Homo sapiens: one gene and its partners. The protein of the gene in region 6 purifies or fractionates together with the protein of the main gene of each other region. This does not show direct contact. Each region holds a gene or a part of one and is shown on either strand. Other genes may lie near its edges. The genes, in order: MAT2B, NT5DC2, PNO1, POLD3, COLGALT1, NSUN2 and TXNDC5.

The links.
Region 1: the proteins of NSUN2 (region 6) and MAT2B fractionate together in Homo sapiens (co-fractionation; one large-scale study listed by BioGRID). This does not show direct contact.
Region 2: the proteins of NSUN2 (region 6) and NT5DC2 fractionate together in Homo sapiens (co-fractionation; one large-scale study listed by BioGRID). This does not show direct contact.
Region 3: the proteins of NSUN2 (region 6) and PNO1 fractionate together in Homo sapiens (co-fractionation; one large-scale study listed by BioGRID). This does not show direct contact.
Region 4: the proteins of NSUN2 (region 6) and POLD3 purify together in Homo sapiens (tandem affinity purification; one large-scale study listed by IntAct). This does not show direct contact.
Region 5: the proteins of NSUN2 (region 6) and COLGALT1 fractionate together in Homo sapiens (co-fractionation; one large-scale study listed by BioGRID). This does not show direct contact.
Region 7: the proteins of NSUN2 (region 6) and TXNDC5 fractionate together in Homo sapiens (co-fractionation; one large-scale study listed by BioGRID). This does not show direct contact.

Annotation. Positions count from the first base shown.
Region 1 is NC_000005.10:163,515,235-163,519,876, reverse strand, and holds the end of MAT2B (methionine adenosyltransferase 2 subunit beta), read right to left. Parts: intron 3,360-4,642; coding exon 3,166-3,359; intron 2,317-3,165; coding exon 2,203-2,316; intron 1,685-2,202; coding exon 1,514-1,684; 3' UTR 523-1,513; downstream 1-522.
Region 2 is NC_000003.12:52,523,542-52,527,433, forward strand, and holds the end of NT5DC2 (5'-nucleotidase domain-containing protein 2), read right to left. Parts: intron 3,835-3,892; coding exon 3,753-3,834; intron 1,755-3,752; coding exon 1,668-1,754; intron 1,563-1,667; coding exon 1,422-1,562; intron 1,341-1,421; coding exon 1,276-1,340; intron 1,191-1,275; coding exon 929-1,190; 3' UTR 846-928; downstream 1-845. Other genes in the region: STAB1 (stabilin-1), read left to right, coding at 1-215, 330-476, 559-672, 759-815. UniProt on the Homo sapiens protein: Promotes dephosphorylation of tyrosine 3-monooxygenase TH which decreases TH catalytic activity and leads to reduced synthesis of catecholamines including dopamine, noradrenaline and adrenaline.
Region 3 is NC_000002.12:68,164,322-68,168,227, reverse strand, and holds part of PNO1 (RNA-binding protein PNO1), read right to left. Parts: intron 3,291-3,906; coding exon of another isoform or gene 3,269-3,290; exon of another isoform or gene 2,354-3,268; intron 1-2,353. UniProt on the Homo sapiens protein: Part of the small subunit (SSU) processome, first precursor of the small eukaryotic ribosomal subunit.
Region 4 is NC_000011.10:74,595,461-74,599,366, reverse strand, and holds part of POLD3 (DNA polymerase delta subunit 3), read right to left. Parts: intron 1-3,906. UniProt on the Homo sapiens protein: Accessory component of both the DNA polymerase delta complex and the DNA polymerase zeta complex.
Region 5 is NC_000019.10:17,558,525-17,562,430, reverse strand, and holds part of COLGALT1 (procollagen galactosyltransferase 1 precursor), read right to left. Parts: intron 3,121-3,906; coding exon 3,010-3,120; intron 2,084-3,009; coding exon 1,966-2,083; intron 1-1,965. UniProt on the Homo sapiens protein: Beta-galactosyltransferase that transfers beta-galactose to hydroxylysine residues of type I collagen. By acting on collagen glycosylation, facilitates the formation of collagen triple helix. Also involved in the biosynthesis of collagen type IV.
Region 6 is NC_000005.10:6,615,962-6,619,867, forward strand, and holds part of NSUN2 (RNA cytosine C(5)-methyltransferase NSUN2), read right to left. Parts: intron 2,064-3,906; coding exon 1,989-2,063; intron 897-1,988; coding exon 766-896; intron 1-765. UniProt on the Homo sapiens protein: RNA cytosine C(5)-methyltransferase that methylates cytosine to 5-methylcytosine (m5C) in various RNAs, such as tRNAs, mRNAs and some long non-coding RNAs (lncRNAs).
Region 7 is NC_000006.12:7,886,531-7,890,436, forward strand, and holds part of TXNDC5 (thioredoxin domain-containing protein 5 isoform 1 precursor), read right to left. Parts: intron 3,052-3,906; coding exon 2,965-3,051; intron 2,319-2,964; coding exon 2,175-2,318; intron 1-2,174. UniProt on the Homo sapiens protein: Protein disulfide isomerase of the endoplasmic reticulum lumen involved in the formation of disulfide bonds in proteins. Can reduce insulin disulfide bonds.

The DNA of each region.
Region 1 (4,642 bases), about 160 Mb from region 6:
GCGTGGTGGCGGGTGCCTGTAATCCCAGCTACTCGAGTGGCTGAGGGAGGAGAATTGCTTGAACCCAGGAGGCGGAGGTTGCAGTGAGCTGAGAATGCACCACTGTACCCCAGCCTATGCGACAGAGCGAGACCTTGTCTAAAAAAAAAAAAAAAAAACTTTATGATAATCTACTTCCACTTAATGAATAGTAAATATATTTTCCCTTCCTTGAGATTTTCTTAATAATATTTTCTTTTCTCTAGGCTACTTTAAGAATACAGTATGTAATACACAGAAGATAGAAATATGTTAAATGACTATGTTTATCAGTAAGGCTTCTGGTCAACAGCAGGTTTTTACTAATTAAGTATTTGGGGAGTCCAGAGTTATAGTGGATTTTAGACTGTGCAAGGTTGATACCCCAAACCCACACCGTTCAAGGGTCAACTGTATAATGTAACAAGATTATATAGCTATTAATTTTTAGTTAAAAACAAATCCGTTCCCACAAATAGATACAGTAACTGTAACATTCTAGGATGGGGTGGTAAGTTAACATTCTGGATCAAGTGTTAATTTTATTGTGTTTTATTTCAATACATATTAAACTATATTCTTTTGTATGTATCACATGTTACATCAGAAGAATGTAATTTTTAAAAATTAAAGCAACAAAAGAACAATTAGTTTAGAAGTTTGGTCCTTACATTTAAAAAAAGAAGTAAATACAAGAAAACTAAGCATTACATGCCAGCAGTACATATTTATTATTATTCATGAATGGTGAAAAGACTTACAAGGCCCATTATTATGAGTATAACCACACATATGAAATATCACTTAGCGGCAACATGGGATGAAAAGGACAGTTATATATTTATATTAAAAAAATACACGTTTGCATTCAATGTTTGCCTAGAAAAAAAATACATGTACACACGCTCTTTCAAGTGCTCCCCATAAACTGCTATAAAAGCAGGAGGCATCAAGCTGTAGAAGTTCCAATATACATAACATGTTGAAATATCTCAAGCATAAAAACTGTACGTAACTTGCAAAAATAAAGTTCCTTTCTTCAAACATTTTGATCTGAGCTCAGGCAAAGCAAATAATGAACACCAATGATTTTTATACTATTTCACACAATTTAAAATAATCAACATGAAAAGGTCAACAGCTTCAAAAATCCTGAAAATATGGAGGTTACGAGAATGAACAATTTCATCTGAAAAGTCTACAGCAGATCTGCTTCATCCTGACTCTCAAATATTTAAGGATCATAATTTACTATACTCAAACTCCAAGTTTAGCCAGGACAAACAAAATGATAAAAAGAAAAATTACTGCAAACAGGGCATGACTGCCCTTTAGTTTCTTTAGACAATTTCACTAGTGCAAGAGCATCATTTACCTGAAAGATCCTAAGAGTCACAATTAAAGTACTCATACAAAACTATTTCCTTTGTTCTTTAAAAAGTGCCACATACTATACTTTTCATTTAAAAAAAAAAAAGAACCCAACACAAATAAACTAATGAAAGACCGTTTGTCTCCATCTCTTGTCAATGAGGAAAGGCCAAAGTGATTCTTTGATTCCAATTCGAAATGGTGTTCGTTGGCCAATGCCCAAGGTCTCCAATTTGGAGCAGTCAAGCTGAGCATTTCTCGGACGTTGTGCTCCTAGGACAGGGCTGTCAGTAATCTTTAAAGAAAGATAAACACAAAAAAATCAAAAGTAAGTGAAAGGCTATATTTTGAGGGCTTTGTTCCCCCTGACCTTTTTTTAAATATGTATATATTTTTAAACAGAGATGAGATCTCCCTCCATTGCCCAGGCTAGTCTCAAATTCCTGGGCTCAAGGGATCCTCCTGCGTCAGCCTCCCAAAGTGTTGGGATTACAGGCATGAGCCATTGTGCCTGGCCATTTTGAGGTTTTATATTTGCTACTTATTTTTGCTCTTAGTGTAAGAAATCTGATTTGATCATCCCTGGAAAAATAAACCAAATGCCTGTCATGATCAAGACAATAATACATTTTCTACAAACTTCAATACTCATGATCTTCTCTACAGATGATAATTTAGAGAAAAGTAGCACTATGAACAGCCAGCATACAAGCAAAGTTCACTTTGATTAGTACTGAGAAATGAAGTTACCCAACACAGCAATAATATATACCATAGCAATGGATCTAAAGGTTTTTACAGCCATGTACTTACAGGTCTTAAGTGACTGCTGGGGAGGTTGAAGGCATCTGCAATTGCACATGCCATTTCATACTTAGTCATCTGTTCATTGCCAGACCAGTGAAAGGTTCCCTTAATTGATGGATCCTAAGAACGATGACACAATAAATTCAATAGTTTCAACTTTTTGAGCTGAGTAGAATAGGTTTGACCAAAAAGCTTACTTAAAATAAGGTCCAGGAACTAAAAGGCAACCCTCTTTTTCTGGAAAGGTCTCCACAAGATATCTAAAATCAAATTCCTACTAATACTCTTAGCAAAACACTTAAAAGAGCAATTTCTAGAATTTAAACCTTAAGAATTTTTAAAATCAAAAAAAGGCTCCAATTTTACTTAATTAGTGGGAATATAAAAAAGCATTACAAATTTTTATGAAAACAGTACAATTTAATGAGTATTTTTAATTATCCCAAGCTACAACAAAAACTTAATAGAACCATTTTTCAAGTTGAGCTAAACTTTCTTAAATATTGTCATGTTATATATTACAAAATATAATTCTCATATATTAAAAAACTGTGGTCATCCTATTAATATTCTAAACTAAATCAGTCTCATCTTTCTTTGTATGGATATTATATTTAATACCAACTTTTTCAAATGTGCTGGGATTACAGGTGTGAGCCATCACGCCCAGCCCCCAAAGAGTATCTTCTTAAAAGACCTTAGATGATTATTTTGAAGTTTCCTAACACTTTGCAATAAAAGAAATGATGGGATCTATAGTACATAAGAAATAAATTCAAACAGAAGAGCATAATATTTTTATTCTTCATGAATACAGTGTATATGTAAACTACTTTTGTTTGGTCTCCTAGTTTTAAAAAAGCACTTTTGGCTTTCACTCAGTAACACTCCAAGTACAGCTGTGAAAGTTCAAGCATGGAAAAGACAAAGCGGACCTTCGCTAAGACAGGACTCAGGAATCCTTCTTACCAGCATTCTCTTCTCTGCTAGCTGCCGGCACACAGTGGCCACATCTTTGACATGTGTGGGGAACCTCTGCTGCCAGTGATCCATGTTTGCTGACTTGTTGCTGAACTGCACTTTATCAAACATAACAGTCACAGCACTTTCTTCGAGCTTTTCAACTTCCCCATACAGAATAGGAATCCTCAAAACAGCAGCTCCTAGAGAAGAATAAAAGCAAATAATTTAAAGCTGACTGATTCTTAAATTTTGATGTAAGATACAAGGGTGTGGATTTAAATAATATCAAAGTAGAAACCTTGCCTTTTAATTAAAATATACCAAAATGACACAGCTCACTTGTGACAACGCAATGTAAAAATATTCAAGGCCAGGCACAGTGACTCATGCCTATAATGCTAGCACTTTGGGAGGCCAAGGCAGAAGGATCACTTGAAGCCAGGAGTTCAAGATCAGCCCGGGCATCATAGCAAAACTCCGTCTCTACAAAAAATTAAAATGAAAATTAGCTGGGCATGGTGGCACATGCCTGTAGTCCCAGCTACTTGGGAGGCTGAGTAAGGCAAAAGGATCTCTTGAGCCTGAAGTTCAAGGTTGCAATGAGCTATGACTGCACCACTGTACTCCAGCCTGGGCAACAGAGTGAGACCCTGCCTCAAAAATAAAATTAAAAACAGTCAAAGGCTGAGTGCGGTGGGGCTCATGACTGTAATTCCAGCACTTGGGAGTCCAAGGCAGGAGGACTACTTGAGCCCAGGAGTTCGAGACCAGCGTGGACAACACAGTGAGACCTCGTCTCTACAAAATGTAAAAAAATTAGCCGTTCGTGGTGGGAGGATTGCTTAAGCCAAGGAGGTCAAGGCTATAGTGAGCTGTGTTCACCCTACTGCACTCCAGCCCAGGCGACTGAGACCCTGTCTCAAAAAAAAAAAAAAAAAAAAAAAAAAGAAAAAGGCAAAACCACATTTGTTAAGTATCTTCTGTCATTTGGACTAGTTTTTTTTATATATATAAATCCTACATTAATATGATCATTAAAAATAAAACTTATCATGACAACTGAATGCAATGAATAGTCTTTGACTGGATGCTAGATTAAAAAATAAAAGCAATAAAGGACATTTTTGGCATAAATGAGAAAATTCCTAAATAGATTTGTATTTGATTACAGTACCATATTAATGTTAAGTTTCCAAATGTATGATAACTGCACTGTAATTATGTGAAGAACATTCTTCTTGTTAGAAGATAAAAGAAAGGTAAAGTATTTGGAGATGAAATTCAACTAATTATCAATGGGTCTGGCAAAAGCAAACATATAAAACAAATGTGACAAAACATCAACAATTTGTGAATCTATGTGAAGGGTATATGAGTGTTCACATTAGTTTTACAACCACTCATTAATATTTAGATTTTATAATGGTCCCTGCTGATGGTATACAATAGTTAACACTTTAACTGCAAATCAAACATTTTCTTT
Region 2 (3,892 bases), on a different chromosome or scaffold from region 6:
ACGCAGGCCCTGACAACAGTTCCTGGGCCCCTGTGGTGAGTCTGGCCACTGTCCCACCCTGTTGGCCCTGGCCCTCGCTCACAGTGGGCCTGACTCTGGTCTCCCTGCAGGCCCCAGGGACAGTTGTGGTTAGCCGTATCATTGTGTGGGACATCATGGCCTTCAATGGCATCATCCATGCTCTGGCCAGCCCCCTCCTGGCACCCCCACAGCCCGTGAGTTGAGGAAGGGGGAGGCAGAGCCCTTCCTGGCACCCCCACAACCTGTGAGCCCGGGGAAGGTGGTGGGACAGCTCCCGCCAGGTCAACACTCTCCCTGTTTGTTTGTAGCAGGCAGTGCTGGCGCCTGAAGCCCCACCTGTGGCGGCAGGCGTGGGGGCTGTGCTTGCCGCTGGAGCACTGCTTGGCTTGGTGGCCGGAGCTCTCTACCTCCGTGCCCGAGGCAAGCCCATGGGCTTTGGCTTCTCTGCCTTCCAGGTAGGGCTGGGTTGGGGCTGCCATGGCGGGTCCTTGGATCTCGCTTGAGGCGCCTCGCCACTCACCCCTCTGCTGCTCCCAGGCGGAAGATGATGCTGATGACGACTTCTCACCGTGGCAAGAAGGGACCAACCCCACCCTGGTCTCTGTCCCCAACCCTGTCTTTGGCAGCGACACCTTTTGTGAACCCTTCGATGTAAGCATGGAAGTGAAGAAGTGTGGCAGATGTGGGATGGGCCCAGGCCCTGGTCACACCCTCCACCACCAACCCTGCTCTTCTAGGACTCACTGCTGGAGGAGGACTTCCCTGACACCCAGAGGATCCTCACAGTCAAGTGACGAGGCTGGGGCTGAAAGCAGAAGCATGCACAGGGAGGAGACCACTTTTATTGCTTGTCTGGGTGGATGGGGCAGGAGGGGCTGAGGGCCTGTCCCAGACAATAAAGGTGCCCTCAGCGGATGTGGGCCATGTCACCAAGGAAGGGGGTCTTCATGCAGCCGGTGCAGAGCTGGTCCATCCAGAGGGGTGCCTCGTGCTGCAGCGGCGTACGGCGTGGGTAGAAGGTGAAGTCCACGCGGTAGTTGAGCAGGCAGCTGAGGGAGGCCATGTAGAGGTCAGAGAAGCGCACGAGGCGCCTTGAGAAGTAGGTGGGGTTGTGGAAGGTGCGGAAGATGCTGCCGAACTGCGCATTGAACAGGGCCTTGGTGATGCACCTGGCGAGGGAGACACGATGCGCTCAAGGGGTGGGCCTGGGGTGGTGGCTTGGCTGGGACTCCTGCCCTGGCCCCACCTGCTCACCTCAGCTCCTGCCGCTCTTTCATCCAGGCAGCCAGCACCTGCCTCGACTCCGCGTCCTGATAGGTCTGGGGACACAAAGTGTGCATTGGGTGTGTGCACCCAGGAGGCTACCGCCCTGGCCCTCCCACAGCCACCCCGGCCCACACCTGCATGCGCTCCAGCAGCCCCGTGAGCGCCTGCTGCCACGTCAGCGAGTGCATGTACTGCTCCGTGTTGATGATGCGGATCTCACGCTCCAGCTCGGGGATGATGGCGCCTGTGCGCCAGCCGTGCCGCAGCATGAGATCCTGGTGGGTGGGGCGGCAGAACTGGGCTCAGCGCCAGTTGCTGGGGGCGGGGGGGGGGGGGTTTCCTGGCCCTCCCCCACTGCAGCCCAGCCCTGCCTCCCTCACCGCCAGATCACTATAGAGGTGGTCCCCGAAGTAGAGCACGCGGGGGCCACGCCATTCCGTCAAGCGTAAGAAGTCAAACAGGTTTCCCTAGGGAGAGGAGGGGAATGCTGCTGAGCCAAGTGTGCCTTGTCCTCCACCAGTCCTCCCTCCCGAATCCCCAGAGGCAGCCCAAATCCAGCCGGATGCTGGCTGCCCTTTCCCATGGCCTTGCTGCTCCCTCCCTGGGCCCTGGTTCTTGTCACTTTCCCCTCCTACTTGGGAAGGGGATTCTGCCTGCTGCAGGAAGGTGCCCTACAGGCCTGGCATGGTGCCCATGCCTCGAGGGCCTTCTCCCTGTGGTCTCACACGTACCCCAGGTTAGGGATTAGATCCCTGTTTGTAAGGTAGAAACTGCAGGGAAGGCTCTGCAGCCCTGAAGTCCTTGCTGGCCTCCCCTGCCTCAGTGCAGAGGGACCTGGCAGACCAATGGCAGACCTCACCGGGGCCACCAGCATCTTGGAGCCAGAGAAAGATGGAGACACTCAGCCAGGCCCACATGTAACTGGGGAAGCTCACAGGGTGGCAGAAACTGAGCGGCCCAGAGCAGGAATCACCAGACTAGTGCTCAGGCAGCAGCCACCAGGGTAGGAGTCCACACCCCAAAAGCGAGAATAATTGACACCCAGCAAGCACAGTTCTTGAAGCAGTCTGTGCATTCCAAGCCTCAGAAGTGGAAGCGCTGGGGGAAACAGGTGGTGTGGGAGAAGCCAATTGCTGAACTAAGTTCAAGTGGAGGGGCAGAGGCCCAGGCAGGCCCCAGACCAAGAGAAAGAGTCTCAAAGGGCAGGAGACTGACAGACTCCTAGTGACTGACAGGCAGGATCCAACACACAGTGGAAAGCAGCTTCAGAATACTGGGCATAAAGAACTGCCTGAAAGCTGCCAGGGAAGAAAGTCATGTGTTTCTCACAAAGGTGTATGACCCTCTTTAGCTGAGGCTGGATGCCAAGGCAGGGGAGAGCAGCGCCCTCAGAGCTGAAGGGACGCACCTGGGCCCGAGGGCTGTGGAGAGTTTGGGTGCGGAAGGGTGGGAGGCAGAGAAGTGGGCAGGGCTGAGAGGGTGGGGGTGTTTCCTGCAGGCCAGGCTGGGCATTGGCCACCTCCACATTGCTCCCCTGGCCAGCTGCTGGCTTCCCCCTCCTCCAGCCCCAAGGCCTTTAGAACCCCTAGCCTGAAGAAGCCCAGCTCAGCCAGGATTTCCGCATTCCAGCCAGGGCTAAACCTTAATCACTGCCTGCTCATAGACACCTAATCCCACCTCAACACCAGTCCCTCTCATTTTCCTAGCCAGGTAGGAAGGAGGAGTTTCTCTAGATCACCCAGTGAGCTGCCCCCAACCAGACTTGTTCTGGCTGCAGCAGAGTGCTCAACCCCAAGAAATGACACCATTCATCAGGCATTTCACGATCTCTGACCATTCTTGTTTTTTGAAGACAGGGTCTTGCATTGTTGCCCAGGCTAAAGTGCAGTGGTGTGATCACAGCTCACCACAGCCTCGAACTCCTGGGCTCAAGTGATCCTCCCACCTCAGCCTCTGGAGTAGCTGGGACCACAGGTGCATGCTACCATGCCCCGCTAATTTTTTCTATTTTTAGTAGAGATGGGGTTTCGCCATGTTGGCCAGGCTGGTCTCAAACTCCTGAGCTCAACAAACTATCCTGCAGCCTCAGCCTCCCAAACTGCTGGGATTATAGGCATGAGCCACGGTGCCTGGCGCACTGGCCATTCTGAGAGCTTTATACCACAGCTTCAGTAGAGAGTATTACACCTCTTTTGCAGACAAGGGAAGCAAGGCACAGAGGTCAGGCAACCAGGCCAGGCTCCCTCTGCTGAGTAGTGGAGTTAGGAATTCAAAGCCAGGCTGCTTGACCCAGAGGTCAAGCTCTCGAGGCCACCCAGACCTGCTCCCTGCCAGCCATTGCCTGTGTGAGGCTGCTCAGGGCCAAGGAGCTGTGCTGCTTCTTCAGAGGCTGCCTCTGCACAGCCTGGGGCCCTAGCTAGGCCCCATGCCCCCACCACATGCTGCTCTCCCCAGATGGCCCTTACCTGCCGATAGATCTTGCCCTTTTCCAAGCGGGTGATCCGGTCCCACTGAAGTGAGCCCTTCTCATCGAGTTTTCTGAAAGGCCTGGGGTGCAGGTAAAGGGCATGACTTCCAGTCTGTGGCTGGGCCACGGGCCGGGCAA
Region 3 (3,906 bases), on a different chromosome or scaffold from region 6:
GGTATACAAGCATTAGGACCCCTCTTATATTCAGAGCTCCTCCTATAACCTGTTAAATAAGTATACTTGGCCAACGCATTCAGCATAAATTCCTGTCTCATCCTTTCCTCCTTCAGAGTGCCTGCTTTTGGTCTCTGCTGAAGGCTATACTTTCCAGCCTGTCAGAATGGCCACCCTGCAGACTGCAACCCTTTCTAAGAAATAAAGTTTCCTCTCCAAATTTATAGATCTTGTGATTCTTTTCTTGACAATCTCAAATTGGAAATGCAGCTTTTATGTGGGTGCAGGATTGTTCTAAGAAAGACACATCTATAGAGTCTAATATGATGGAGAAAAAAATTAAGTCATTATATGACAACTTACAGCAAAAGGAAAATGAAGGATCTAAAGCTGGAGAACTTAACGCCAGCAAAGGATGCTTCGATAATGTTAGAAAGAGGTGGCTTTAAAAATGTCAGGGTAACAGGAGAAGCAGCTTCTGCTCACCAAAGGGCAGCAGACAAGTTCCCAGATGCCATTAAGAAAATCACTGAGGAGAAATAATATCTGCCTGAACAGGTTTTTTGTGCAGATGAAAAACGTCCTGTTCTGGAAAAAAATGTCACAAAGGGCAATTATTAGTAAAGAAGAGAAGCAAACACCAGGATTTAATGCAGGAAAGGATAGGCTATCTTTACTGTTTTGTGCAAATGCAGTCAGGTTTATGATCAGGACTGCCGTTATCTATAAAGCTGCTAACCCCGATCCTTGAAGGGAAAAGGTAAACACCAGTGGCCTGTCTTCTGGATGTACAAGAAGGCTTGCACAAGGAGAGCTCTTTTTCTGGATTGATTCCATTGATGCTTTTTCCCTGAAGTCAGGAAGTATCTTGCCAGTAAGGAATGCCTTTTAAAGCTCTTTTGATGTTGAGCAATGTCCCAGCCACCCAAGAACCCCATGAGTTCAATACCGAAAGGCAACAAAGTGGTCTCCTTGCACCCACTCTCTAATTCAGCCTCCAGAACAGGTAGTCATAAAGACCTTTAAGGTTCATTACACACACTACTCTATGGAAAATAGTGTCAATGCTATGGAAGAGAACTCGATGGAAAGAACATCATAAAAGTCTGGAAGGACCATGCCATTGAAGACACTGTCATTATTATGGAAAAAGCTGTGAAAGCCTCATGCCTGCAGCTATAAATTCCTGCTGGAGAAAACCATGTCCAGAGGTTTTGCATGACAGTACAGGATTTACGACAGAGCCAAACAAGAAATCATGAAAGAGACTGTGGATATGGCCAAAAGTGAGGGGTGAAGGGTTTCAAGATATGGATCACGGAGAAATCAAGAGCTAACAGACACTATGCCAGAGGAATTAACAGAAGACGACTTGATGGAGGTGAGTGCTTCTGAAGCAGTGCCGGGTGATGAGGAAGATGATGTAGAAGCAGCAGTGTCAGAAAACAAGGTGACATTAGACAATTTGGCAGAAGGTTTCTGATTATTCAAGATGCTTTTGACGTCTTTTATGACATAGACCCTTTTATGACGTGGGCACTGAAACTAAAAACTGTGGAAGAGGATTGGTACCCTACAGAAACATTTTTAGAGAAGTGAAAGGGCAAAAAAGTCAGAAATTACAATGTATTTCTGTAAAGTTCCAGAGTATGCTTGCCTCTCCTGCCTCGCCTTCCACATCTTCCTCCTCTGCCACCCATGAGACAGCAAGATTAACCCCTCTTCCTCGTCTTCCTTAGCTTATTCACCATGAAGACCTTTATGATAACCCACTTCCACTTAATGAAGAGTAGATAGATTTTCTCTTCCTTATAATTTTCTTAATAACATTTTTTCTCTAGCTTACTTTATGAAAGAGTACAGTATATAATACATATAACATACAAAATATGTGTTTATCAACTGTTTGTTATTGGTATAGCTTCCAGCCAAAAGCAGGAGTAGTTAAGTTTTGGGAGAGTCAAGTCATACATACATGGATTTTCAACCATGTTAGGGGTTCAGCATCCCTAATCCCTGCAATATTCAAGGGTCAACAGTATACCTGTGCAATGAAATAGTACTTGCCAATAAAAAGGAACTACTGATACACCCAACAAAATGGAGAAATCCAAAATAACATGCTAATTAAGAGAAGTCATACACCAAAGCCTACATACTGTGTATTTCCATTTATATGAATTTCTAGAAAATGCAAAATAAGAGTGACAGAAACAAGAGCAATGGTTGTCCCAGAAAAGGGTGGGGGCAGGCAACTGACCATAAAGATGCACGAGGGAACTTTCAGGGTAAGAGAACTGTATGAGTGTCATGGGACTACAATATACATTTGCCAAAAACTCATTGAACGGGATACTTAAAACAATAGAATTTTATTGTATGTAAATTATGCCACAATAAACTTCTAAAACGTTGGTTTAACTAGTAAATTTTAGGTTAACACTTACAAATATACTTATAAATTTACCAGTAATAAACTTAATGACAGACTATATAATTTCATTGGCAAATCAGTTAGTTTTAGATTTCTAAATTCTTTTTTTTTTTGAGACAGAGTCTCACTGTCGCCCAGGCTGGTTTCGAATTCCTAACCTCAGGTGATCCACCCGCCTTAGCCTCCCAAAGTGCTGAAATTACAGGTGTGAGGCACCATGCCCAGCCGTTTTTTTTTTTTTTTTTTTTGAGATGGAGTCTCACTCTGTCGCCCAGGCTGGAATGCAGTGGTGCAATCTTGACTCACTGCAGTCTCCGCCTCCCAGGTTCAAGCAATTCTCCTGCCTCAGTCTCCCAAGTAACTGGGATAACAGGCATGTGCCACCACACCCAGCTAGTTTTTTTTTTTTTGTTGTTTTTTTTTTTTTTTTGAGACGGAGTCTCGCTCTGTCGCCCAGGCTGGAGTGCAGTGGCGGGATCTCGGCTCACTGCAAGCTCCGCCTCCCGGGTTCACGCCATTCTCCTGCCTCAGCCTCCCAAGTAGCTGGGACTACAGGCGCCCGCCACTACGCCCGGCTAATTTTTTGTATTTTTAGTAGAGACAGGGTTTCACCGTTTTAGCCGGGATGGTCTCGATCTCCTGACCTCGTGATCCGCCCGCCTCGGCCTCCCAAAGTGCTGGGATTACAGGTGTGAGCCACCGTGCCGGGCCATGGATTTCTAAATTCATGAAAGCTTTCAGGGCTACTCAGCCAGTCCATGACTTGATGATTTAACCGAAGATTTTTTTTTGACTTTATAATTGCGCCAAAGTGGTACACACTCGGAATGCTCTTCAGTTTTCAAAGAGAAGTATCCTATGATATCAAATGAAGTATCAAATGAACTTCTGACTTATGAGATCATTAATTTACAACAGGTTTATCTGGACGTAACCCCACCATACGGTGAGGAGCATCTGTATATGGATTTTAAATTAATTAATTTTTTATTTTTTGGATACAAGGTTTCACTCTGTCACCCAGGCTAGAGTGCAGTGGTGCCATCATGGTTCACTGTGGTCTTGACATCCTTGGTTCAAGCAATCCTCCCACCTGAGCCTCCTGAGCAGCTAGGGCTACAGGTGTGCACAATCACACCTAATTTTTATATTTTTTGTAGAGATGGAGATCCCTATGTTGCCCAGGCTGGTCTTGAACTTCAGGGCTCAAGCATTCCTTCCTCCCACCTTGGCCTCCCAAAGTGCTGGGATTATGGGCATGATCCACTGCGCCCAGACTATATGTGGTATTTTTATTTTTATTTTGTTAGAGTCTCACTCTGTCGCCCAGGGTTGAGTACAGTGGCACGATCGTGGTTCCCTGCAGCTTCAACCTTCTGGGCTCAGGTGATCCTCCCACTTCGGCCTCCCAAGTAGCTGGGACTACAGGTGTGGGCCGCCACACCCGGCTAATTTTTGTATTTTTTTGTAGA
Region 4 (3,906 bases), on a different chromosome or scaffold from region 6:
ACTTGAGAGAAATGTTTGTGAAAATACTATAGTGAGGCCGAGCATGGTGGCTCATGCCTATAATCTCAGCACTTTGGGAGGCTGAGGCAGGAGGACTGCTTGAGTCCAGACGTTCAAGACCAGCCTGGTCAACACAGCAAGATCCCAACTCTACGAAATAAAAAAATCAGCTAGCATGGTGGCATGTACCTGTGGTCCCAGCTACTCTCAGGAGACTGAGGTGGGAGTATCCCTTAAGCCTAGGAGGTCATGGCTAAAGGAAGCCATGTTTGAACTACTGCACTCCAGCCTGGGTGATACAGTGAGACTCTATCTCAAAACAAACATAAACCATAGTGCTTGGTATTCATTCAGTATGTATTGGCATTCATTATGTGCCTGACACTGAAGACAGAATAATTGTGGCATGTTATATTTTCCAAAGATGGCTGAGACAGCATCTTCCATTCCATATGCTCTTCTACATTCTCTCATTGAGAAGTAGAGCCCACTTCTTGAATCTGGTATGACCAGTTATTCACTGCTTGACTTCTGAGGCTAGTCAGAAAAGGCAATTGGCTCTACATTGTGCTGGAACACAAGCTTTTGGAGCCCTGAGCTTCTATGTAAGAAGTCCGACTACCTGGAGACACCAGGCTGTGAGAAAGCCCAGGCCATACAGATAGACCACATGCAAGCACTCTAGTCCACTGCCCCAGCTAAAGGCCCAACAGATGGCCAGAATCAACAGCCAGACATGTGCATAAAGATGCCTAGAGATGACCAGGTTCCAGTTATTGAGACTTTCCAGCGGGGATGCCAGACATCATGGAACAGACATAAGCCATTCCCACTGTGCCCTATCCAAATTCCAAAGCAAAAGAATCTATGCGCATAATAAAATGATGTTTCCAGGCACTACATTTTGGGGTGATTTCTGACACAGCAATAGTAATCAGAACAGTGATGAACCTGACAAGTTTCCTGCCTTCATAGAGTTTATATTCTAGTGGGGAAAGACATATAATTAGCAAGAAAATGCCAAGACAATAATATGAATTATAAAATGCTGGGATAACCGTATACCCATGTGCAAAAAAATGATGCTGGACCCTTTCCTTACACCATACACAAAAAATCAACTCCAAGTGATTCCTAGAAGATATAGTCAATATTTATACATTTCAGTGATTCATTTAAAAATTAGCTTGAACTAACACCTAATCTGAAAGCTTTAGTATAGTCTTACTGTAGGAACTAAAGCATTTTTTTCTTTTTCTTTCTTTCCTCCCTTTTTTCTCTCTCCTCTCTTTCTCTTTTAGAGATAGGTTCTTGCTCTGTCACCCAGGTGTGATCATAGCTCACTGCAGCCTTGAACTCCCGGGCTCAGACAATTCTCCTGCCTCAGCCTTCTGAGTAGCTAAGACTGCAGGTGCATGCCACCACACCAGGCTCATGTTTTAAAAAAACTTTTTATAAAGATGTGGGTCTCACTATGTTGCCCAGGCTTGTCTTGAACTCCTGGGCTCAAGCAATCCTCCTACCTCAGCCTCCTCAAGTGTTGGGACTAATACAACTGAGCCACCACAGCCACCCGACTGAAGCATTTCTAATGTTAACAAGTACATGGCCAGGTGCAGTGGCTTATGCCTGCAATCCCAGCACTTTGGAGGACAAGGCAGGAGGATGGCTTCAGCCTGGGAGTTCGAGACCAGCCTGCACAACACAGCAAAACCCCGTCTCTACAAAAAATACAAAAAGTAACCAAGTGTGGTGGCATGCGCCTGTAGTTCCAGCTAGTCGGGAGGCTGAGGAGGGAGAATCACTTGAGCCTGGGAGGCTGAAGTTGCAGTGAGCCAAAATTGCGCCACTGCATTTCCATCTGGGCAACAGGGTGAAACCCTGTCTCAAAACAATAATAATAATGATGCTAACAAGCACACGATCTGTAGAAAACTTAAACATAGTGATAACCATGATTTTTTTAAACTCTAAGTGGATTACAGAATTAAATATAAGTGCAAAAACTAAAAAATCTTAGAAAAAAGCACAGGAGTAAATCTTCATAACCCTGGGTTAGGCAAAGCCTTCTTAGATATTATGTCAGAAGCACAAGCAACACATCAAAAAGAAAACACAACAAGGGTATGGAGAAAACAGAATGCTTATACATTGTTGGTGGGAATGTAAATTAATACAGCCATTATGTAAAACGGTATGGAGGTTCCTCAAAATATCAAAAATAGAGCTACTGTATGATCCAGCAGTCCCACTACGGATATACATCCAAAGGAAATGAAATCAGTATGTCAGAGATATTTGCACTCACATGTTTATTGCAGCACTATTTACAACAGCCAAGATATGGAATCAATAAATGTCCATTAATGGATAAAGGAAATATAGTGTATATACACAATGGAATACTATTCAGCCATAAAAATGAATAAAATCCTATCATTTGCAACAAAATGGATGAACCTGGAAGAGACTATGTTAACTGAAATAAGCCAGACACAGACAAATACTACATGATCTCACTCATTTGTGGAATCTGTAAAAGGTGATCTCACGGAAGTGGAAAGCAGAATTTTCTTTCCATAGGCTGAAGTGGTTAGGGGAGGGGGAATGGGGAGATGTGGGTCTAAAGGATACATAATTACAGTTAGACAGGAATAAGTTCAAGAGCTCTACTGTATAGCATGGTGACTACAGTTAGTGATGATATATTCTTGAAAAATGAAAAGATGGTAGACATTAAATGTTTTCACCACCAAAATAACTGTGTGATGTAATACATTTATTAGCTAGATTTAACTACTCCACAGTGTATATATACTTCAAAACATAATGTTGTACACAATAAATACATACAACTTTATTTCTCAATTTAAAAAATCTTGGCTTGGCACGATGGCTCACATCTGTAATCCCAGCACTTTAGAAGGCCGAGGCGGGCAGATCACTTGAGGTCAGGAGTTCGAGACCAGCCTGGCCAGCATGGTGAAACCCCAACTCTACTAAAAATACAATAAAATTAGCCGGGTATGGTGGCACATGCCTGTAGTCCCAGCTACCTCGGAGGTTGAGGCAGTAGAATAGCTTGAACCAGGGAGGCGGAGGTTGCAGTGAGCCGAGATCACGCCGTTGGACTCCAGCCTGGGCGACAGAGCAAGGCTTCTGCCTCAAAAAAAAAAAAAAGAAAAAAAAAAATCTTCTTAGGCCGGGCACAGTGGCTTGTATCTGTAATCCCAGCATTTTGGGAGGCCAAGGTGGGAGGATCACTTGAGGTCAGGAGTTTGAGACCAGCCTGGGCAACATAGCAAGATCTCATCTCTACTAAAAAAAAAAAAAAAATAAGATTAAAAAAAATTTAATCATTTTAAAATTTAAACTTAAAAAAGCATAAGCAACAAAAGGAAAAATAAATAAATTGGACTTCATCAGCAATAAAAACTTCCATGGGCCAGGCATGGTGGCTTATGTCTGTAATCCCAGCACTTTGGGAGGCCAAGGCAGGGGCTTGAGCCTGGGAATTCAAGACCAGCCTGGGACCAGCATGGGAAACATGGCGGGACTCCATCTCTACAAAAAATTTAAAAATTAGCTGAGTGTGGTGGCACGCACCTGTAGTCCCGGCTACTCGGGAGGCTGAGGTGGGAAAATCACCTGAGCCCAGGGAAGTCAAGGCTGCAGTGGGCTGAGATCACACCACTGCACTCCAGCTTGGGCAACAGAGTGACATCCTGTCTCAAACAACAACAACAACAAAAAATGTCTGTGCTTCAAAGCACACCATCAAGAAAGTACAAAGACAATCCACAGAATGGGAGAAAATTTTTGCAAATAATTTTTCAATCAGGGTCTTGTATTCAGAATATATAAAGAACTCTTAAAACTCAACAACAACCAAAAATACCCAATGAC
Region 5 (3,906 bases), on a different chromosome or scaffold from region 6:
TCAGCCACTCAAAGTACTGAATTTAGAGGCATGAGCCACCGCGCCTGGTCCACAGAGGCTTCTGAAAATCTCAAATCAGAACACAGACCTCCCCTGCTCACACACCCTCCATGGCTCCCCATTCCCCTCCAAGTAGACACCAAGTGCCTCCACTGGCCTGTGTAGTTGGACCTCTAGCCACCACTGCATCGTAATCACTTTGCTCACTTGACTCTTTGCTTTTTCTTTTCTGCTTTTTGTTTGTTTGTTTTAAGAGATGGGCTGGATGTGGTGGCTCACACCTATAATCCCAGCACTTTGGGAGGCCGAGGCAGCTGGATCACCTGAGGTCAGGACTTTAGAGACCAGCCTGGCCAACATGGCGAAACCCCGTCTCTACTAAAATTACAAAAATTAGCCAGGCATGATGGCGGGGGCCTGTAATCCCAGCTACCCAGGAGGCTGAGGCAGAAGAATTGCTTGAACCCAGGAGGAGGAGGCTGCAGTGAGCCGAGATTGTGCCACTGCACTCCAACCTGGGCAACAGAGACTCTGTCTCAAAAAACAAGAAAAAAGAAAATCAGGAGAATATAGAAAAGTATGAAGGCTGAAATAACATTTGGGGTTGATCATAGAAAACTGTGTAATGGGTTCAATGTATATTATTTAGGGGATGGACGCCCCAAAATCTCTGACTTCACCACTTCACAATCTATGCATGTAACAGAATTACACTTGTGCTCCATAAGTTTATACAAATTAAAAAATAATAGTAATATTCAACCTATAAGTCTGTTTTTTTTTTTTTTTTTTTTTTTTTGAGACAGAGTCTCATACTGTGGCCCAGGTTGGAGTGCAGTGGCGTGATCTTGGCTCGAGAAAAAAATAAAAAGACTCAACTGTTCCCTTCCCCATGAGACAATGTCCCCACAGGAGGAGGAAGTGCAAGTCAGGCCTCAGCAATTCAATGTGGCCACCACCCCCCAGCCCCTGACCCCTTCCTCCTGCTTCTTGGAAGTGACCCAAAGGTTTGGCCATTACATATGATGGTGATAAAAACAGACGTGACACGGCCAGGCACGGTGGCCCATGCCTGTAATCCCAGCACTTTGGGAGGCCGAGGCAGGAAGATCACTTGAGCCCAGGGGTTGGAGACCAGCCTGGGCAACATAGCAAGACCCCGTCTCTACAAAAATATTTTTTATTTGTTATTTTTTAAAAATATTTATTTATGTATTTATTTATGAGATGGAGTCTCACTGTGTCGCCCAGTGACTGGAGTGCAGTGGCACGATCTCGGCTCACTGCAACCTCTGCCTCCTAGGTTCAAGAAATCCTCCTGCCTCAGCCTCCCAGGTAGCCGGGATTACAGGCACCTGCCACCACGCCCGGCTAATTTTTGTATTTTTAGTAGAGATGGAGTCTCACCATATTGACCAGGCTGGTCTCGACCTCCTGACCTCAAGTGATCCACCCGCCTTGGCCTCCTAAAGTGCTGGGATTATAGGCATGAGCCACCATGCCTGGCTTCCACAAAAATAAAAATAAAAAATTAGCCGGGCGTGGTGGTGGGTGCCTGTGGTCCCAGCTACTCAGGAGGCTGTGGCACGGGAATCGCTTGAACCCAGGAGGCAGAGGTTGCAGTGAGCCGATATTGCGGCACTTCACTCCAGCCTGGGCACCAGAGTGAGTCTCTGTCTCAAAAAAATAAAAAAATAAAAATGGACTTGACCCAAGTGTCCAAACACAGGGGACAACTGGGGACAGAAAAGCCCATTCATTCCTAGTGCTGAGGATCAAATGAATCCCAGCTCCTCCTCCACTGACCAACCATATCACCTCAAGCAACTCATCTCCCCTCTCTAAGCCTCAGTTTACCCTTCTGCAAAACAACATTAAGGATGGTCCTGGCATCCTGCTGCTCCGCCTTCCCTGGGGATACCCAGACCTGCCTGTGATCCATATCCGGCCGGCTGAGAAACTTACCAGGATGTAATCAGCCCACATGTCTCGAGCTGATTTCAGGGCTGCCTGGCGCAACTTCATGACATGCTCGTAGCGTGAGTCAGACCAGTGTTTCGGGCCTTCCTCGTCCGGGTAGGACCTATGGGGAGGCAGCTGTGATGTGGACATCACAAGGCACTATCAAAGCCCAGCGAGGGCCTGAGCTGCCTTCGGGGTACTCAGAGAGAGCTTCCTGGAGGAGGGGACGTGTAAGCTGATCTGAGGGATGGGAAAAAGTAAACGACGAGGAAAGAGAAGTGGGGAGAATGTTCCTGGCCGGAGGTACAGCCTGTGCAAAGGCCTGGAGGGAAGAAAGCCCGAGGCACACTGGAGGGAAGGAAGGAAGGAAGCTCAGTGGGGTCCAGTGCAGTGGCCCACGCCTGCGATCCCAGCACTTTGGGAGGCAGAGGTGGGAGGATCGCTTGAGGCCAGCACTTTGAGACCAGCCTGGGCAACACAGTGAGACCCTATCTCTACAAAAAATACAAAAACATTAGCTAGGCATGGTTACATGTGCCTGTAGTCCCAGCTACTCAGGAGGCTGAGGCGGGAGGATGGCTTGAGCCCAGGAGTTAAAGGCTGCAGTAAGCTGTGTTCACTCCACTGCACTCCAGCCTGGGTGAGGGAGTGAGACCCTGTCTCAAAAAAAAAACAAAAACCCAGAAAGGAACTGGGTGGGGGCAGGGAGTCCATGCTGCCCAGGGCTTTAGGGAGTAGATAAACAGCAAAGCCAGTGCTGGGACCAAGACTGAGTCAGTGAGCCAGGGAACAAAGCAGTGGGCGTCCCCAGAAGAAAAAGGGAGTGAAAGAATTCTAGGTACAGGGAACGGCTTGGGCAAAGGTCTGAGAAGAGGATTATGGCCTATTTGTAAAGCTGAGGGAGGCTCAGAGTAGCTTAATGCTGCCTGGCTGGGCTGGAGGCAGGGACTGAGGGCCTGTAATTGTTCTGGGGCAATGGGGAGCCATAGAGGGTGTGTGAGCAGAGGCAAAGCCCAATCAGACTAGGAGCAGGGGAAAGATGCTCACCTGGGCTCCTCTGCTGGCCGCCACTCCACGGAATGGTACAAACTCTTCACGGCCACCAGCCACTCCCGCAGCACAGTTGACGTGTTATCCATGTTGTGGTCCGTAGCCACCCTGCAGGGAGAGGGGACAGGCAGCGTACTTGGGGAGACTGAGGCAGGACCAGGCAGCAGTGAGGCAAGTCAAGGACCACCATCCCCAACTGGCCTCCCACCAGCTATGTATCCCTGGACAGGACACTTCTCCCTTTCCTTTGTTTTTTTTTGAGACAGAGTCTCGCTCTGTTGCCCAGGCTGGAGTGCAGTGGCGCGATCTCGGCTCACTGCAAGCTCCGCCTCCCGGGTTCACGCCTTCTCCTGTCTCAGCCTCCCAAGTAGCTGGGACTACAGGCGCCCGCCACCACACCCGGCTAATTTTTTTGTATTTTTAGTAGAGACGGGGTTTCACCATGTTGGCCAGGCTGGTCTCGATCTCCTGACCTCGTGATCCGCCCACCTTGGCCTCCCAAAGTGCTGGACTTAACAAGCGTGAGCCACCGCGCCCGGCCCATTTCTCCCTTTCCATGTCAGTTTCCTCATCTGTAACATGGGGGTGGGAACAGGACCCAGTTTACTGGGAAGTGGAAGGATTAAACAAGCTGATTTTGGAAAGACCCATTAGTGATTGGCTGTTTTATTACTGAGCATCTAAGATCTTGCAAACCACATTCACTAACAAATATGTGTCACTTAATTTTTTTTTTCTTTTGAGACAGAGTCTTGCTCTGTCACCCAGGCTAGAGTGCAGTGGCACAATCTTGGTTCACTGCAATCTCCGCCTACCAGGTCCAAGCAATTCTCCTGCCTCAGCCTCCCGAGTAGCTGGGATTACAGGTGCCCACCACCATGCCCAGCTAATTTT
Region 6 (3,906 bases):
GGATGGCTACTAACAACAAAGAGCCCCAGATAATAAGTGTCCCTGAATGTGTAGAGAAATTGGAACCCTTGTGCACTGGGGGTAGAAATACAAAATGACGCAGCCACTGTGAAAAAAAGCATGGTGGGGTCCCCCCAAAATTAAACACAGAATTACTATATGATCATATGATCCAGCCATTCAACTTCTGAGTGTATATCCAAAGAATCGTAACCAGGATCTTGGAGAGGTATTTGTATACCATGCTCACAGCAGCATGGCTCACAACAGCCAAAAAGTGGAAGAAACCCAGATGTCCATCAACAGATGGATGGGTAAACAAAATGCGGTTTATATAAACAACAGAATAGTGTTCAGCCTTAATAAGCAATGCAATTTTGACACAGACAACAACACAAGTGAGCCTCAAGGACGCTGCAGTAAGTTAAATAAGCCAGTCACGAAAAGACAAATACAGTATGATTCCGCTTCTGTGAGGTCTAGAGTAGTCAAAGTCATACAGACAAAAAATAGAACGGTGGTGTGAGGGGCAGGGAAGAGAGAGATGGGAGCTACTGTTTAAAGGAGTTCAGAGTTTCAGTTTTGCAAGGTGAAGATTTCTGGAGATGGATGGTGGTGGTGATTAACAATGGGAATATACCTAACGGGACTGAACTGCAGGCTCAAAAATGATTAAGATGGTAAACCTCACGTTATGTGTATTGTACCATACACATATGAAAAGCCCCCTATGCTGTTAATAAAAGATCCATCAAGCGTGCTTACCTTCACTTTTTTCCAGTAAAGATGCTATGACTGCTTCATCCTCAATAGGGTTTAGTGAACACGTGGAATACACCATCCTTCCACCTTCAGCCAGCTGTTCAGCCCCGCGTGTTGCAATCCGCAGCTGTAAGCTAAGGGGAGATATCAGATGACTGCAAGGCCAAATGTATCCATGAAGTGCACATATTAGAAGCACCTCCTTATGTCACATATTCATTACAAGCTTTTATAACACAATTATACTTAAAAAAAACCTTCCAGGGATCTAAATGAAGTTAGAGTAAACTTATATAAAGTGTTTCATGTTAATAAAAAAAATGTATTATATAAATATTCTTACTGCTCTGTTAACCTTTCCCAATATGTCAACCAGCAGAGTATAAAGTTCAGTAACAACAGAATTCAATGTATTAGATGAAATTTCACTATTTAAAAAACCTCCATACTTCCTAAATATGTGGTTTTTCTATGAAAAATTGGTATCATACATTCCAGTCCTAACTCTTGTCTCTGTGTCACAAAACAGTAGACAGTATTTTATGGAGACGAGGCCTCCTGCTATAGTTGGTTGTGGTGGATGCTAATTAGTATTCTGTGGCTCAGGCACAGTACAGTCCTGCATGCAAGACCATGGCATTTGTCATGTCAAATGAAAAAAAGAATACACTGCTCTACAGACAGCATGATCAAAAGTATTTGGAAAAAGTACTTAAAAAATCCCTGTAAACAGAAAAACAATACAACACACCAAACATTAACAGACGTGATCATCGTGTTATGAGATTTCTCTTTAAGAATTTTCCAATTGTTCTTTAATGAATAGTTCCCCATCATAAAAAGCCAACCGAAAAATATTTCTAAGAGATCAAAATGTCTCTTAGCAAAACGATGATACAAAAGAACAAAAACAGAGAGAAAAGATTAGTAATGCATACATCAAGAGGTAAACGGTCATTTCATGGAAAAATACATATCTGAAGTGTTGCAAGAAATTTTTATAGAAGGCATTTTTAATAAACGTGTTATCTGAAATGTATACAATTTGCAGTTATTGCTCTTGAAAGGTTTTCAAATAACTTCTGATAAAACAGTTGAAGGTGGCCATTGACCATCCTCTGATGCTTACAGCTCTCTAATTAAAGATCGGATGCTCACTTGCATAACAATAAATCTCTGCTGATCTACTTGTCACACAGTGTTAGCAGTGATGAAGTTTTACTTACCCATGTAGCTGCAAGCTATTTAAGGTGGTCCACTTTTTCCAAACATCAATGTTTTTTCTCATAGTGCCGTCTCCACTGGAAAAAAGATATTTATGAGTGCAAAGCTCCCTACAGGTGGATGACTGCACTTTAACAGATATGTCACATACAAGCTAAGTTACAAAACAAGTGTTACAAATATCAGTTAGGAAACAATCTCCATTTTCACCAACTGCAATCTGCTTTCAGCTTTTGTTTTAGGGATTTTCTAATGTATTATAGTTTTAAATTATACTTCAATTTTCAAGCAGAAAATAATGGATTTGAACAGTAAACTCCATTCACTAAGGAGATATTAATGTGCTTCCATTTGGAAAAAACACTAGCAAGACTAATTTGCAGACCTAGGACACAGAACCTAAAATACTATTGAAAATCTCAGTTAATCAACAATGACACTTTAATCAGAATTACATGAATAATGACTAATAAGAAATTTTCCACAGTTAAGCTAATATATTAGCTAAATTTTTCCTACAATCACAGGTAAACATTTCTGACTTTCTACTTTTATTTAATGGAAGTTATTTTCATGTTTTTCAGAACCTAAAATACTATTGAAAAACTCAGTTAATCAACAATGGCATTTTAATCAGAATTATATGAATAATGACTAATAAATTTTCCATAGTAATTTCAATTAAGCTAATATAATAGCTAAATTTTTCTTACTAATAGCTAAATTTTTCTTACAATCACCGTTAAATTTCTGACTTTCTACTTTTATTTAATGGAAGTTATTTTCATGTTTTTGTTAATGGAAGCTCTTTCCATGTATATTTTATAGTAAAGACTGGATTTGTTACTTTCTGTGTCTAATTTTATCTGCCCTGTTTTCCCAGAAGGTAACGCCTGTTTTTGTTGGCTTTCTCTGTAAATGCTGATTTTCCTTGATGGTCTAGCCGCGTGTACACGAGGGACTAGGTCTGCAGGATGGAATTATCCCATGAGATGTAATCCCCACTTTGCAATGGCATTCCTGGCTGTACACTAGTTGTTTGCATGGTAGAAATCCCACCACAATTTCAGAAATTTCCCCAGCTTGCAACCTCTTGCTCATAAGGTCACTGCGTTCTCAGATCTCAGAATATGATACAAGGAACGAGTTATCTTTCTGATCAAAAAACAGGGGTAGGAAAACATGAGACCCCAAGGAATACTGAAAAATTGCAACCTAGAGGAAAAAAAAACTTTAGTTCATGATGTATTTTAAATTTTACTTTAAAGAGGGCTTTTTCCAGATTATTTTAACACTCAGCTATATTCAGAGCCACCAGCTGCAAGTTTCATACTGAGTTTTGCCATGAGCAGTAACTCTGCCACTTACTGAAACAAAATGGCATTCTTCCATAATGTGGTATCGTATCTAAAGCTTGCATTCTGTGCTAACAAGTTTTGTGGCAGCTTTTGAATTCTGGTCTTGACAAACTTATGTCATTCAGAAGTCATTATCACCTGGGATCATCATCCGTGCACCTCCTATGGGAACGGAACAGATGATGTCTTTAGTTTTGTTTCTTTCCTTTTAAAAAAACTTGTTACTCAGTTATACCATGAGTATTATTTTATATCTAAACTCTAAATATCTAAAATGTTGATGTATTATCTCAAGAAAGGTATAAAAACACAAGCAAAATGAATTTCTTAAGGGCTTGAACTCCGAAATTTCTTTCATTCAACTAAATAACATAAAATCCAATGTGATTACGTATTATTTTATGACAAAGTTTTTTATATACTGTACTCACTGGAAGAACTAATACAAAATAGTTGGGGTGCACAAATTGTTCCAAGCAATAACATCCTAAAACACACCACAATAAGAGTCTACGATTCTATTTTCCTCTTACGTATTTTCTCTGTTTTGTTTTGTTTTCTC
Region 7 (3,906 bases), on a different chromosome or scaffold from region 6:
ACAGAAAGAACCTAGTTACAATAGCAAAGGCAATGATACCTGTTTTACATTGAACATAAAAATGGAAAGCAGCCTGTTCTAAGTCAATGTGAAAAACGCTGATGGAAGCTCTGGCTGGAGAATTTAAGGGAAAGGTGCTACATGGTAGTCTGCTTTAAAGCCATTCTCCCTTGACAGTTCTTTACAGAATGACGTCTATGTGTTTCTCCAAAAATGGATCTGCGATTCTCTCCTGAGAGCAGGAATGGGATGATTTATCACGTGGCTAAGTGTACCAGGGCTGCTCCATTTGAGTCTGGCATCGAGTAACATGTCAGTGACGGAGGCCAAGGGGGCCACTGTGGAACACTACCATCTTTATGTCCAGAAACATGACGCCACACGCACTGAAAAGACCCACTTCATGGTGGAAAACTGCATTATAAATAGAAATGGTGCTGCGATGAAAACATCCGTGGTATATAATTATACTCAATTTGGGATGACCTTTGTAACCACCATGACACATACACTCCTCTAACATAAGTGGTCCTGACAACTACAAAATCAGCTGTTTACTTCTTCAACCAAAACGTCAACTTTTAAACAACACTCAGGCCATCCCCGACCTACAAGAGCCCAACTAGGGACAGGGTTGTAGGGGTGAGGAGGCCTGGTGTGGCCCCACCAGGGAGGAGGGGTTGGTGGCCCCACTGGTTTTTCCAAATCCAAACTCCTGGCCTTCAGGCATGACTTCTACCTGAAGAGGATGACACGGGCACTCTCGTCCAGTGCAGACCTCCTGCCGCAGCCCCAGGCTCATGGTTGGAACTGCCACTGGACACTGCCACCTACACAGCCGAAAGCCTTGAAGATCAACACCTTGAAAACCAAGCTCATCCCTTTCCTCGAGCTCTGGCCCCGCCCCTGTGCTGGGTACCATCCTCCACCAGATATGCGGGAATCAGACTCGCCTCGGACCCTCCCTCCCTCTCCGCGCTGCACAGCGGCTGGACTCCTTATGCTGGCTTTCTCCTCCTCGCCATCGCACAGTCACGGCTGCAGCATGAGGGAACGCATCATCTTTAAAGGCCTAATAGAGCAGCTTCCCACCTCCAGCACACGTGCATGCCGGTCATTTTCCTACAACTCCAATCTGCACAGAGCCTCCATGGGCTCCCTGTCAATATGGGATACAGTTCCTAATCCTTGGCCAGCTGCCCACAGACTCTCAACTCCAGCTCCTCTCTCACTCTCAGGGATCCTACACCACACCCTGACCTGTCTCCCACTGTGTTCCCCCAGCCCCAGCTCTGGCCCTGCAGAAATGCCGGCTGATTCTCGGGTTGTGCCTCTCCTGGTGCAGCCCCTCAGTGGCAGCCCTGCCCAGCCTATCTGTCCAGCACAGATCCCGTCAATCAGCTCCTTAGGGACACTTCTTGCCCATTTGCCCCCACTTCTCTCTAGCAGCCAAGCCCTGCACACATTTCTGCCCCAGCCCCCTGCCATTGGCTTGTGTGTCTTCTCACCATTTGCCTCAGAGACCTGTATGCTTCAGAGGCAGGAAACCGGTCTTATTTTTATTCCCTGGTGGCCTAGAACAGTGCCTGTGACATAACAAGGGCTTCATAAAGCAGAACAAATGAATCTGAAACCTCCTGCTACCTGAGTGAAGGAAGGAAGCCCCTCAGTGCATCAGGACTGCCTAGGCAGGTTACAGCTACAGTCACTGGCCTGATCGCTGCGGATGCCCTCTTGGCTACAGGTCTTCTAGGGGCCTTTACAACGGGTAAAGGAAAATGCCCGGAGCAAGGTCAGGAATAGAATCAGGGCCCCGGGGCCAGCAGTCGAGATTTCATAGCAGAAACATGCCCAGCAGAGTCATTCTTTAAAATGAATGAAGCGGAAAGGAAGGATTCTCTAGAGATTTTTGACACCAAATATTGTCTTGGGATTTGTCTCACATCCATTTCATGTTTTCAAAAGGAAAGCTTTTGTTTGCATTCGCCCCTGAAAGCATGTGAAAGTCGATGAAAAATACGTGTTGAAAACGCAACTGGAGCCAACCATCAGATGACTGTGTCCCCAAACTGTCATTTTGTCCAAAGCATTTGAGGAGGCCTCTGAGGGTGGGGAGGTGGGGGGCCGGGGGCCACGGGCCACTTATGGGGATCCCGACTCCAGCAGGCACCCACCTTGTCAGCCTCGGGCTCAGCTGCCAGCACCGGGGCCTCTGAGGGCGTGACGGTCTCCGTCGCTCCAGTCTCTGTGCGCTGCAGCTGCGACTCCACGTACTCCCTCAGTGACTCCAAATCCCGCTTTCCCTTGTACTGATCCACCTGGCCAAGACACGGGCACGCGGCTGAGTGAGTCCACTGAGGTGTTCTGAATCACTTAAGCCTTCCTGCAACCCCTGCTTGCCCGGGTCAGAGCTCCCAGATGTCTTAGCGGTGGTGCAAAGTCTGCATGTTCATATTTAGACGGGAATGTAGAGAGGATAACTGAATGCCTCGGCTTTGGTGAGAGAACTGTACAGGCCCCTCTTCCCTCCACGGGGTTACACATCACAGAAGTCTGGGGCAGAGGCCTGCCAGCAAGCCGTTGTGCTGATGGGGAACTCTGAGCTGCTGACCATCGGCCAGGGAAGGAGGGAGGGAGGCAGGCAGAACCGGACCAAGTGCAAGCCTTAGCTCTGTTCAAAGGCCTGAAGGTTTGTGTTTACAACCAGAGCACAGTTACCCTGTGACTGTAAGATGTGGGTTATTCTAGTGATAACCTGGGCCACTGAAATGTTTCAAGGTTCATCTCCACAACCCAAATCTTATCAATTAAGAGAAAGACGTTTGTTTCATTATACACATTTCTCCAAACCAGTGCCCTAACAATCAAGATTGGCAATTCACTGTGCCCATTAAACCACTCAGTAGCTCAGCCTGATGGGGTTAAGAGATGAAGAATTCTCAGTACTAAGAAGTGCAGACGTACCTTTTTCCCATCTCGGAACCAGAGAAGAGTGGGATAGCCACGAACCTGGTTTCCGGAGCAGAGTTCATAGTGCTGTGTACAATCAACCTGAGAATAAAAGCAGATCAACTTCCCAGTCAGTTTCTTCATGAACCTTCTTGCTAATGGGGCTACTGGACACTTTGTACGTTACAAATATTCTTTTCAAAATCCACATTCTGTAGCAACTCTGCCAGCAAGGTGCAGTTTTTGAAGAGAATGTTCCTGAAAGCTATGCTAAAACATACCTGAGCTAAAAGGAGTAAAGGAAAGACTTTAGAGGCAAGATTTATTGTATTAATAGCTCAGTTAAACATGCCGGTTTTTAGGAAGCAACATTTTAACTCGAGCAAGTAAAGTCAGCACCTGGTAGCTTGAGTCAGGGCCCTGGCTTGACATTTGGTGGTGGTGGGAGGGGGGTTAGCCTGGCTGTCGGTGACTGGGACCCAGACCAGTTCACATGCCAGCTTAGAATTTACTCTCATGCTGAAGCTTAGAGGGTTTTAAAATCAACAGGGAGCAAGAAGTGAATTTTAAACAGGAGTAGTTGGTATATAATAAAGGTAAGACTGCAAAGATGTCAAGATTATAATCCGTCCTTAATTTTATAAACTTAATTTACCAACAAGCACAGCTCTTCAAGCTTTTTCTTTCATTTAAATCTCATAAAGCTGCTGCTTGCCCAACATTTTCATGAAACATCTTGTTCTAAGTCATTGCTTTCTTTTTTATTTTCTACCAGCACTAAAATAGGCAGGACTAAGTTGTTATTCACTATGTCAGCAAACGGGGGTAAAAATACTATTTCAACACCTAAGACCCGTCAGAGAGCAGCTAAGGTGCGGAACTGAAGTACAAGAGGCCTCAGCCCAAGGTCGGGAGAGGACAAGCATTTTTAAGGGTCCAGTGTAACCCAGCCACATG